2 separate regions of the Homo sapiens genome follow, and region 2 is linked to region 1. Evidence: fine-mapped expression QTL. Tissue or cell type: substantia nigra. Region 1 holds a variant in brackets; the other region holds the start of a gene. All regions are shown on one strand. Distances are between the middles of the regions.

The links. PIP is the estimated chance that this variant, and not a neighbour inherited with it, causes the effect.
Region 2: it holds the start of COX7A2L, and the variant in region 1 is fine-mapped to the expression of COX7A2L in substantia nigra (GTEx, PIP 0.98).

What each region holds. Positions count from the first base shown.
Region 1 is chr2:41,740,512-41,745,772 of GRCh38, forward strand. No RefSeq gene overlaps it. Among named protein-coding and RNA genes, the nearest start is that of LINC01913, 130 kb to the right of the region's middle. The variant G/C (reference allele first, on the strand shown) is at 2,322.
Region 2 is chr2:42,358,153-42,363,152 of GRCh38, forward strand. COX7A2L (cytochrome c oxidase subunit 7A2 like) reads right to left here and starts at 3,065. Exons shown (of 3, transcript NM_004718.4): 1 at 2,938-3,065. The coding sequence starts at 3,009. RefSeq lists enhancers at 1,474-1,553, 2,238-2,982, 2,756-3,075, 2,983-3,726, 3,096-3,155 and 1 more and a silencer at 3,356-3,525.

The DNA.
Region 1 (5,261 bases):
TCAGTGTGGCGATTCCTCAGGGATCTAGAACTAGAAATACCATTTGATCCAGCCATCCCATTACTGGGTATATACCCAAAGGATTATAAATCATGCTGCTATAAAGACACACCCACACATATGATTATTGCGGCACTATTCACAATAGCAAAGACTTGGAACCAACTCAAAATGTCCAACAATGATAGACTGGATTAAGAAAATGTGGCACATATACACCATGGAATACTATGCAGCCCTAAAAAATGATGAGTTCATGTCCTTTGTAGGGACATGGATGAAGCTGGAAACCATCATTCTCAGCAAACTATCGCAAGGATAAAAAACCAAACACCACATATTCTCACTCACAGGTGGGAATTGAACGATGAGAACACATGGACACAGGAAGGGGAACATCACACTCTGGGGACTGTTGTGGGGTTGGGGGAGGGGGGAGGGATAGCATTAGGAGATATACCAGTGCTAAATGACGAGTTAATGGGTGCAGCACACCAACATGGCAAATGTATACATATGTAACAAACCTGCACGTTGTGCACATGTACCCTAAAACTTAAAGAAGTTGAGACTCAAAAAGATTGACTGAATTGACCAAAGTCACATAGCTAGCATGGACTAATGTTTTTGGCACTAGGATTCATGTTCTCTAACTAAAAGAATCAGCCTCACAGTGTCCCATCTGTCTCTATCCTCTCTTCTGCAGCTCCAACTACTTGCTCCACTGCTCGGATGAATTGATATATAAACATACTTACCTTCTTTGGGCAAATGGATTTTGAATCTCAATCTCTTTCCTTTAAGCAGCAGAAAAACATTGAAGAACCTGGCCAACAATTGGATTTAAGACTTAGAATAAGGCTGGGCTTGGTGGCTCATGCCTGTAATCCCAGCACTTTGGGAGGCCAAGGCAGGCAAATCACCTGAGGTCAGGAGTTCAAGATCAGCCTGGCCAACATGGTGAAACCCTGTCTCTACCAGAAATACAAAAAATTAGCTGGGCGCGGTGCCAGTCACCTGTATTCCCAGCTACTTGGGAAGCTGAGGCAGGAGGATCACTTGAACCCAGGATACAGAGGTTGCAGTGAGACCAGATCATGCCACTGCACTCCACCCCAGGTGAAAAAAAAAAAAAAAAGAATAAGAGTGACATCTCAGGCATGGCTGTGAATGCCAAAGTAATATATGTGTAGCTGACCCAAGAATTGATAAGTTCTAGAAAGGCAGAGATAAATGTCAAGATGAAGAGTATTTTCACAATCAGTGGGTATAGTAAGGGATGAAGGGAATGAGAGAGAATATAAAGAAGATATATTCTTCATGTTCTTCATTTCACCTCGCTTTCTTGAAGATGCTTTACATTCTGAGTGGAAAACTTGATCCAGTCTCTAGTTGCTATAAAGTTGGCAGCAATCACATGATCACACCTAGGAAATTCTAATCTCTTGTGAAGACACATAAGGCAGGAGACTCCCTCAATATGAATAGGCAGCCTCCTGGGGCTCCTGACCCCATCACTCACTCAGATTACATTCTGTGCCTAGAACTCCAAATTATACAGATGGAAATGATTTCCCTGAATCAACAATGTTACTTCATTTCTCAACTAGAGAAAGGAGCTTACCTAGAGTCAATTCCTGAGGCCAAAATACAAAACCACCAGCTGGTGTCAACAACTGGCTTCCGCAGTTTGCCCTTAGTGAGTGCCTCCAAGTAGTCTAATGTTTACATTCAAGAAAAGAAAATGAACTTCATCATTTTTATAATGCTCTTTTTTATCACACTCTCTCTATCAAAAGGCTCTGAGCCCTGAGCATAATGCCCTCCCACAGCAGTGGTTTTGCTTAGAGTCCATGCTTGGTTAAGCACCAATTGTGCTTATGAAACTGTCAGTGTGAAACTGTCCACAGGACAAGCATATCAGGAGCCAGAGTTGTGAGCATGACTCTGGCAGCCCTCTGAAATTCTAAGCAAAGAAATGCTTATAAAATTACTATGTTTCCATTTCCCTTGTCTGATACCCCAGCAACTGTGGCTGCCTTCAGTAACTCTGCTCTATAGACATCCGTATACAAAAAGAATGCTTTCTGAGTTGTATACAGCTTCCCTGGGATGAGACCACAGGATTTTGTTAATGCTACGCATTTTCTTCTTAGAATGGCAGTCTTTCCCCTTATTATTTTTTTGGCAAGATAGTAAATCTGATCACCATAGAGCCTAGGGGATTCTCTAGGTGTATAAGAATGGATATTTATGTTGTTTTTTGTAGTAAATGTCCAGTAAGGCAGAAACCAAAGTACTATTTCCACAGCAAAGCTTTG[G/C]CTATCAATTCCATAGGTAGAGTGCAAGATGATCTACAGCTGTAGAATCCTTGAACACTGGTGTTTAACCACTTAGGAGTCTTCAGCCCCTTCAAAAACTGGACCTCTCTCCAGTAAAATGTACACAGGCACACACAAAGGCTGTTTGTAATTTCAGGATCTTTACATTCCCCTAAAGCCACCCATGTCTTCCCTGCTTTGACCCTACTCTTACCTCCCCTTCCCCAAGAAAGGGGAATACTCACGCAGAAGATGCCAGCTCACTCCATCTGATGGTTCTGCCCCCTTTCTCCAGGTAATTCATTACCTACCACAACCAAGGGCACTCTCCTTAATTCCTCTGAAACTCAGCTCCCTCAAAAAAGGGGAACCATAATATGTGTCCATCTACCTTATGGGATATTGTGCAAACCAAAAATGGGAAGAAGCATAAATATACTGTGAATTATAGATTAAACATTGCATATCTGCAATATTGGTGAAGAGTACATGTGTCAGCTATAATGGGCTCTGATCCATCCTGTTTCCAGCCTCTTCCATCTACATTTTTCTGAACATACCAAATTGCTGATATGGTTTTTTTTTCCTAAAGGCTTCTGGATTCACAGTGCATGCCTTTGAAAATGAGGATATGTGTGAGGGAAACTACAAGACTGTCAATTCTTTAATGACAGTGTATTGGCACCCAGGGAACAGCAAACGCTGCTGCAATCCCAATAATTCAGAAGCCTCCATAAATCATCCTGATGAGGAAGAAAAGCTAAAGCAGCGATAGTGCTTTCTGCCTTCTAGAAGACATAATGAATGGTTTAAAGGTTTCTTTAAGGGTGGCTTAGTTTTCCAATAACCCATCCCTCAATACCACCATCCCAAGCTGTCAAGTATAAACAGAGACCTCAAAGTTAGGACATAGAGAAAAATAAAGATGATAAAATATTATTCTGCACATAATAGAGAACCCAGAAATAAAGCCAAATACTTATAACCAACTAATATTCTACAAAGCATACAAGAACATAAATTGGGGAAAGGATACCCTATTTAATAAATGGTAGTAGGGAAACTGGCTACCCACATGCAAAAGGATGAAACTGGATCCCTATCCCTCACCCTATACAAAAATCAACTCAAGATGGATCAAAGACTTAAATCTAAGGCCTGAAGCCATAATAATTCTAGAGGATAACTGATAGGCTTTGGCTCTGTGTCCCCATGCAAATCTCATCTCGAACCCTACATGTCGAGGGAGGGAGCTGGTGGGAGGCGATTAGATCATGGGGGAGGTTTTCCCCATTTGTTCTGGTGATAGTGAACGAGTTCTTATGAGATCTGATGATTTTATAAGTGGTGGTTTCCCTGCTCTCTCTCTCCTGTCACTTTGTGAAGAAGTTGCCTGCTTCCCCTTTGCCTTCTGCCATGATTATAAGTTTCCTGAGGCCTCCCCAGCCATGTGGAACTGTGAGTCAATTAAACCTCTTTTGTTTACAAAATATCCAGTCTCAGATATTTCTTTACAGCAGTGTGTAAACGAACTAATACAGTAACCTTGGAAAAACTCTTCTGGATGTTGACCAAGGGAAAGAATTCATGACTAAAACCCCAACAGAAAATGAAACATAAATAAAAACAAACAAACAGGACCTGACTAAACTAAAAAGCTTCTGCACAGCAAAAGAAATAATTGTCACAGTAAACAGACAATTCACAGAATGGAAGAAAATATTTGCAAACTATGCATTCAACAAAGGACTGCTACCTATAATCTATAAGGAACTCAAACAAATTAGCAAGAAAAAAATAATAATCTCATCAAAGGTGGGCAAATGACATGAATAGACATTTCTCAAAATAAGGCCAGGAAACATATGAAAAAAATGCTCAGTGTCACTAATCATCAGGTGATACGGCTTAGCTGTGTCCCCACCCAAATCTCATCTTGAATTCATGTGTGTCGTAGGAAGGACACAGTGGGAGGTAATTGAATCATGGGGGCAGGTCTTTCCCGGGCTGTTCTCATGATAGCGAATAAGTCTCACCAAATCTGATGGTATTATAAAGGGGAGTTTCCCTGCCCAATCTCTCTCTTTTTGCCTGCTGCCATCCACGCAAGACATGACTTGCTCCTCCCTGCCTTCTGCCATGATTGTGAGGCTTCCCCAGCCACGTGGAACTGTAAGTCCAATTACACCTCTTTTTTTTTTTTTTTTTTTTGTAAATTGCCCAGTCTCTGGTATATCTTTATCAGCAGCGTGAAAATGGACTAATAAATCAGGAAAATGCAAATTCAAACCACGATGACATACAACCTTACTCCTGCAAAAATGATCATTATTAAAAAGTCAAAAAAAAAAAACAACAACAGATGTTGGCTTGGATGTGGTGAAATGGGGACACTTATACACTGCTGGTGGGGATGTAAATTAGTACACCCTCTATAGAAAACAGTATGGAGATTCCTTAAAGAACTAAAAGTAAATCTATCATCCAATCCAGCAATCCCACTACTGGGTATCTACCCAAAGGAAAATGCATTATGTGAAAAAGACACAGGCACACATATGTTTATTGCAGCACAATTTGCAATTGCAAAGATGTGGAACCAACCTAAGTGCCCATAAACCAATGAGTGGATAAAGAAAGTGTGGTATATATATACACCATGGAATACTACTCTGCCATAAAAAAGGAATAAAATAATGTATTTTTCAGCAACTTAAAAGGAGCTAGAGGCCATCATTCTAAGTGAACTAACCCAGGAAAGGAAAACCAAATACCATATGTTTTCACTTATAAGTGAACGCTAAGCTATAAGTACACAAAGGCATACGGAGTGATATAATGAATTTTGGAGACTGAGATGGGAAGGAAGGGATAGGAGTGTGAGATAAAAAAAAAAACTACATATTGGGTACAACATACACTGCTCAGGTGATGGGTGCG
Region 2 (5,000 bases), 620 kb after region 1:
GTTATCATCTGTCTTTTTGATTCTAGGCATTCTGGTGGATACTAAATGGTACCTCATTGTGGTTGTGATTTGCTCTAATAACTGAAAATGTTAAACATCTTCATGTGCTTATTGGCCTCAATTTATTTTTGACGCAATTCAGAGAAAGGTAAGGAAGATGCCTTTCAACCAATGGAAAATGCCATCCCACCAACTGCTTGCTGTCAAGCTGACTTACAAATCTCTACCTGTGCAATTGTTACAGAACCACCTTTTCCATATTATGTTATTTAGTGCATGGCAAATTATTCACTTTACTTACTACTACAAATTACAAACATCTTCATCGTATGTTTCCAGGAAAGGAAAAAGCTGAAGTACTCCTAATTACCAAAGTCAGAGCACCTAGTTGGGAGGGCACCTGTCACAATCACTCAGAAATTTACAATTCATATAAAGCCTACACAGTATCACTTCTTTTCAACATAGTTTAAGAAATCTTTAAGTAACTAAGAAGTTCAAATTCTCAAGAGAAACACGATTCACGAGGAGAGGTACTAGAAATCTGAAAGCCCTATCTATATCAAACTCATCGCAAGGTAATCTCTGCTGAGCGCCCATTTTATTACAATATGCCAGTTTTTAGTCGAAAAATTTACTTTTTTCTTACTAAGCAACAAAACCTAGATTATGCTGAAGATATATTAAAAGAACATAAACCAAGTGTGGTGGTACACATCTGTAACCCCAGCCACTCAGGGGGCTGAGGTGACAGGACTGCCTGAGCCGGGGAGTTCGAGATCAGGCTGTGCAACACAGCAAGAACCTGTCTCAAAAAATATTTTAAAAAAATAAATAAAAGAACATCTACTACCACCAACAGAATAAACTGTGATATATTTATAAAATGAAATCCCACAGAAGAATAAGAGGATAAAAGGAATTAACTACTGATACGTACAACACGGACTAACCTCAAAAATATTTTTTGAGCAGCCAGACACGGCGGCTCACATCTGTAATTCCAACATTTTCAGAGGCAAAAGCAGGACGATTACTTGAGCTCAGGAGTGAGTCTACAGTGAACTGTGACTGTGCCATTGCACTCCAGCCTGGGTCAGAGCTGGTTCCATTTACATGAAGTTCAAAAAAAGGCAAAACTATCTATTTATGATGATAAAAGTCAGAATAAGAAGGTGGCAGGGATTGACAGAGGGTACAAGGGAACTTCCTGGGATGATGTAACATCTTGCATATTGAGGGAGGTGTGGTTATACAGTACATGGGTTTGTCCAAACTCATCAAACTGTAACATTTAATATCCATACACTGGAGAATACATTTCATAGAAGCAGATGATAGAAATGGCCATTTTCTCACATAATCTGTAAAAGAAGTGCAACACTGCTGACTATTCCTTCCTTACAAGTCATTACCAATTCGGTTTCAGTGAGACCACACTGGTTTCCCTTCTCATCCGGACTATTCTTTAAACACATTCTCCTTCTCCACCCTTCCCTCATGTTTCTATACTCTAACTATAATCCAACCTTTCTTCCCTACAAATTACCACCTATGGGCTGAAGACACCCAAGTTTATTAAACTCCATATTCAAAAATCTAGCTGCTACCAAGCATGACATATCACAAACTCAACATTTATAAACCCTAAACTCTTCCTTCCCGTTCCCACCGCAACTCCCCCACTAACCCCCGAAAAAAAAAAAAAAAACTTGCCCTTCTTATCTGAGATTAGAATCATCTGTTTTTGTTTTTAGAGACAGGGTCTCACTATGTTGCCCCAGGCTGATCTCAAACTCCTGGGCTCAAGCGACCCTCGGCCTCGGCCTTCCAAAGTGCTGTGATTTACAGGCGTGAGCCACGGTACCAGACCTGAAATCTTTCTTAAACATCTGCCTCTTGGGCAAGCTGCAGTGTCCCACAGAAAAAGGAAATGAAGCAACAGTAATGGAGTATCCTTTACACCTCATCTGGGCCCCTCACTACTGCAGTCTAACTGCGTATCTCACCGACACTTCCCACACTTCTCTAGAGGATTAGGAGGGAATATACTATCTCAGACAGCTTCTGGTGAACAGTTAACACTTATCCAGAACCAACCACCTGCCCAAACTGCTAGTCACTTGACACACTTCATTTAATGTGTACTAACGCCGCCCTGGATGAAACTGAGCTCACAATAAATTAAATAACTTGGCCAAGGTCACACAATTAAAGCGGAAAACGCCATGATTTGAAAAGGCACGTCTGGGGCTCTAAAATCCCTCATGTTTACCCCCAACACATGCTGGAGAGTCAAACTCCAATTGGTAGAATCTGCGTGAAATGGAATACTTTTCAGACAACCCAAACAACGAGCATCTGTCAAATATTTTACAATCGGGAAAGTGTAACCTCGCTGCATGCAACTTCCCTCCCTGGACGTGTTAAGTAACCTGTTAAATTTCCCAACCCAGATCATAGCCCCCCAACCCCCTGCACCATGGTTTCTCTAAACGCCTTTATAGCCCCGCGCTCTCTAATCTCGAGCTCAAGTGAGGCTGCCTATGGGGCTCTGGCAGATGACAAACGACAAGGAGGCCGAAAGCCAGATGTCTTCGAATTGAGGGAGAAGGCCGGACCTCTGACTCGGGTCACACTGGGGACCCCCACAAACCATCCCTTTTAGACAAGTGACCCCGGGGGTCACCTTGACCCCTGCAGTGAGCCAGACCAAACTTCCACGCCAGGCCAGCCCCCGCCAGGTGAGCAGGTACACAAAAAGAAGCCTCAGTGACCACCGTACGCTGGTGTGGAGAGGCCCCGGGAGGTGCAAGGAGAACAGAGACGAACTCGACCGCGGGCAGAAGCCTCCCCTGGCTCCAACGCCGCGACTGCCTGTCGCCGAGGCTAGGGCCGCCACTTCTCATGTCCGAGCTGGCCAGGCGCCACTCGTACCTGCGGGCTATAGGCCTCCGAAGCCCATGCTCCTGCCAACTTCTGCGTGAAGCCACTAAACTTGTAGTACATGACGCCCAGAGTCCGGCTTCCCGCATCCGCTGCCAACGCGACCGCCCCAGAGAAGGACCCCGCCTCCCCGGCTGTGGTCCCGAGACTCAGCGCAAGGACCCGGTGCTGGGACTAGGGCTGCCCGAAGATCGCCTAACTTAAAACCTGCACACTTAAGCCGCATTGGGGAACCAAAAGCCAGGGTTCTCAGGACCACGAAAGGCAAAACCAGCTCTAAGAGAGCACGCAAAGTCGCTGTGGCGGAGTCTGTAGGAAATATGAAGTTCCCTCTTTCCCCCATTCAGATTTGGGCAGTGCCACGACAACTCAAGAAATGCGCAAGCGCTCCACGGACTAAGCCCGGCGGACTAAGCCCGGCAGTGTCGGAGTCAGGTGGAGCATGCTTTAGGAGGGGCGGGCTCCAGGCGGGGCCTGGGGGGGAGAGGGCGGTGATTGGTGGGCGTGGTCTGGGTAGGGGCGGGGCTACATCGAAGCCGGTTGGGAATTCCACCATCCGAGAGAGTCTGTGCTGCGGAGCCACCGTCTGGTCGTCGGGTTGAAGGCGTCTCTTGCTTTACCGAACTTTAACTGATCGTAGTCTCATTTATTTCCTTCCGACCTAGAGCACCTCTTATCCAGAAGCCACCACCTGCTGTTGCTCAGTCTGCCCAGGAGTATAGACTTGTCGGCCAAGCTTCCCCTGGCAACCTGGGAGTTGAAGCAAATAAGAAAATTTGGAAGCACCTGCTGAAGGCTGTTTAGTACCCAGGGCTGTTGGGAGATTTGCCCCAATAATATAAAAGTAGCCTCCTGGGCTTTGTGCAGAGGAAATACACATGCAGAGTGATCTAAAGCTCAGGTACCAGGATGTAAATGTCACACGGTTTCTCAGAACTGGTTTTTATTCTCACCTGAGTTTTAAGGTCATTGATTATTCATCCTTTTCCTGGCCTCTGCTCTTTGCGATAAATGAGGTAGGGGGAGGGTGATCAGAAACACTTGTAAAATCTGGACCTTGAGCCTGAAAGATCTGGAACTACCACTTTCAGTTCTGGTAGTATTCGCTTCAGTTCAATTTAAATATGTCTGTTAAGCCTGTGCTGTGTGCAAGGTACTGTGTAAAAGGAGTATACTAGTTTCTTACTCTCCAGGGATGGACTCAGGCTTTTCTTAGCTTCATCATCTAACCATAGGTTTACACAAGCATATTCTAGATGCACTTATGAAATCATGTTGCAAATTGATGGATGATACTAACCTATATATAGCATTGCCCTAAACTCATTTAATCTTCACAACAATCCTATAAGGTAAATGCTATTATCATCTCCATTTTAGAATACAGGAAAATGACGCCTGGAGAAGCTAAGTAACTTGCTCAGGTCAGGGATAAGTGGCAGAGCTAGGCATTTGGCTCAAGACTTCCTACTGTTAAGCACTATGTTACAAATAAATAGATATGAAGCCATTCTGAAAAGAGGAGGATCAAGGCTGAGCATTCCAGGGTGAGGGTGTACACCAGCATCCTGGTTGCAGGCTTACGTTCAAGAGCCCCAAGTATTCAGCACCGCCAATATGTTGTAAAGGTTTCAGCGAATTCATGTAAGCCAGCCCAAAGTTGCCACTTTTACAAAGAGACACTGTGATATAATGGAAAGAACATGCAATTTGGGTTTATGTCCATATTTCTCCAAGGATAAGTGGTTTGGGACTAGTGATTTCCTTTTTTTTTTTTTTTTTTTTAAATTCTTTTTGAAACAGGGTCTCACTCTGTCCCAGGCTGGAGTACAGTGGTGTGATCTCGGCTCATTGCAGCCTTGACTTCCCAGGCTGAGGTGATTCTCCTACCTCAGTCTCCCGGGTAGCTGGAACCACAGATGCGCGCCACCACGCCTGGCTAATTTTTTGTATTTTTAGTAGAGATGGGGTTTCACCATGTTTCCCAGGCTAGTCTCAAACTCCTGGGCTCAAGTGATCTGCCAAACTCAAGACTCCCAAAATGCTGGGATTAC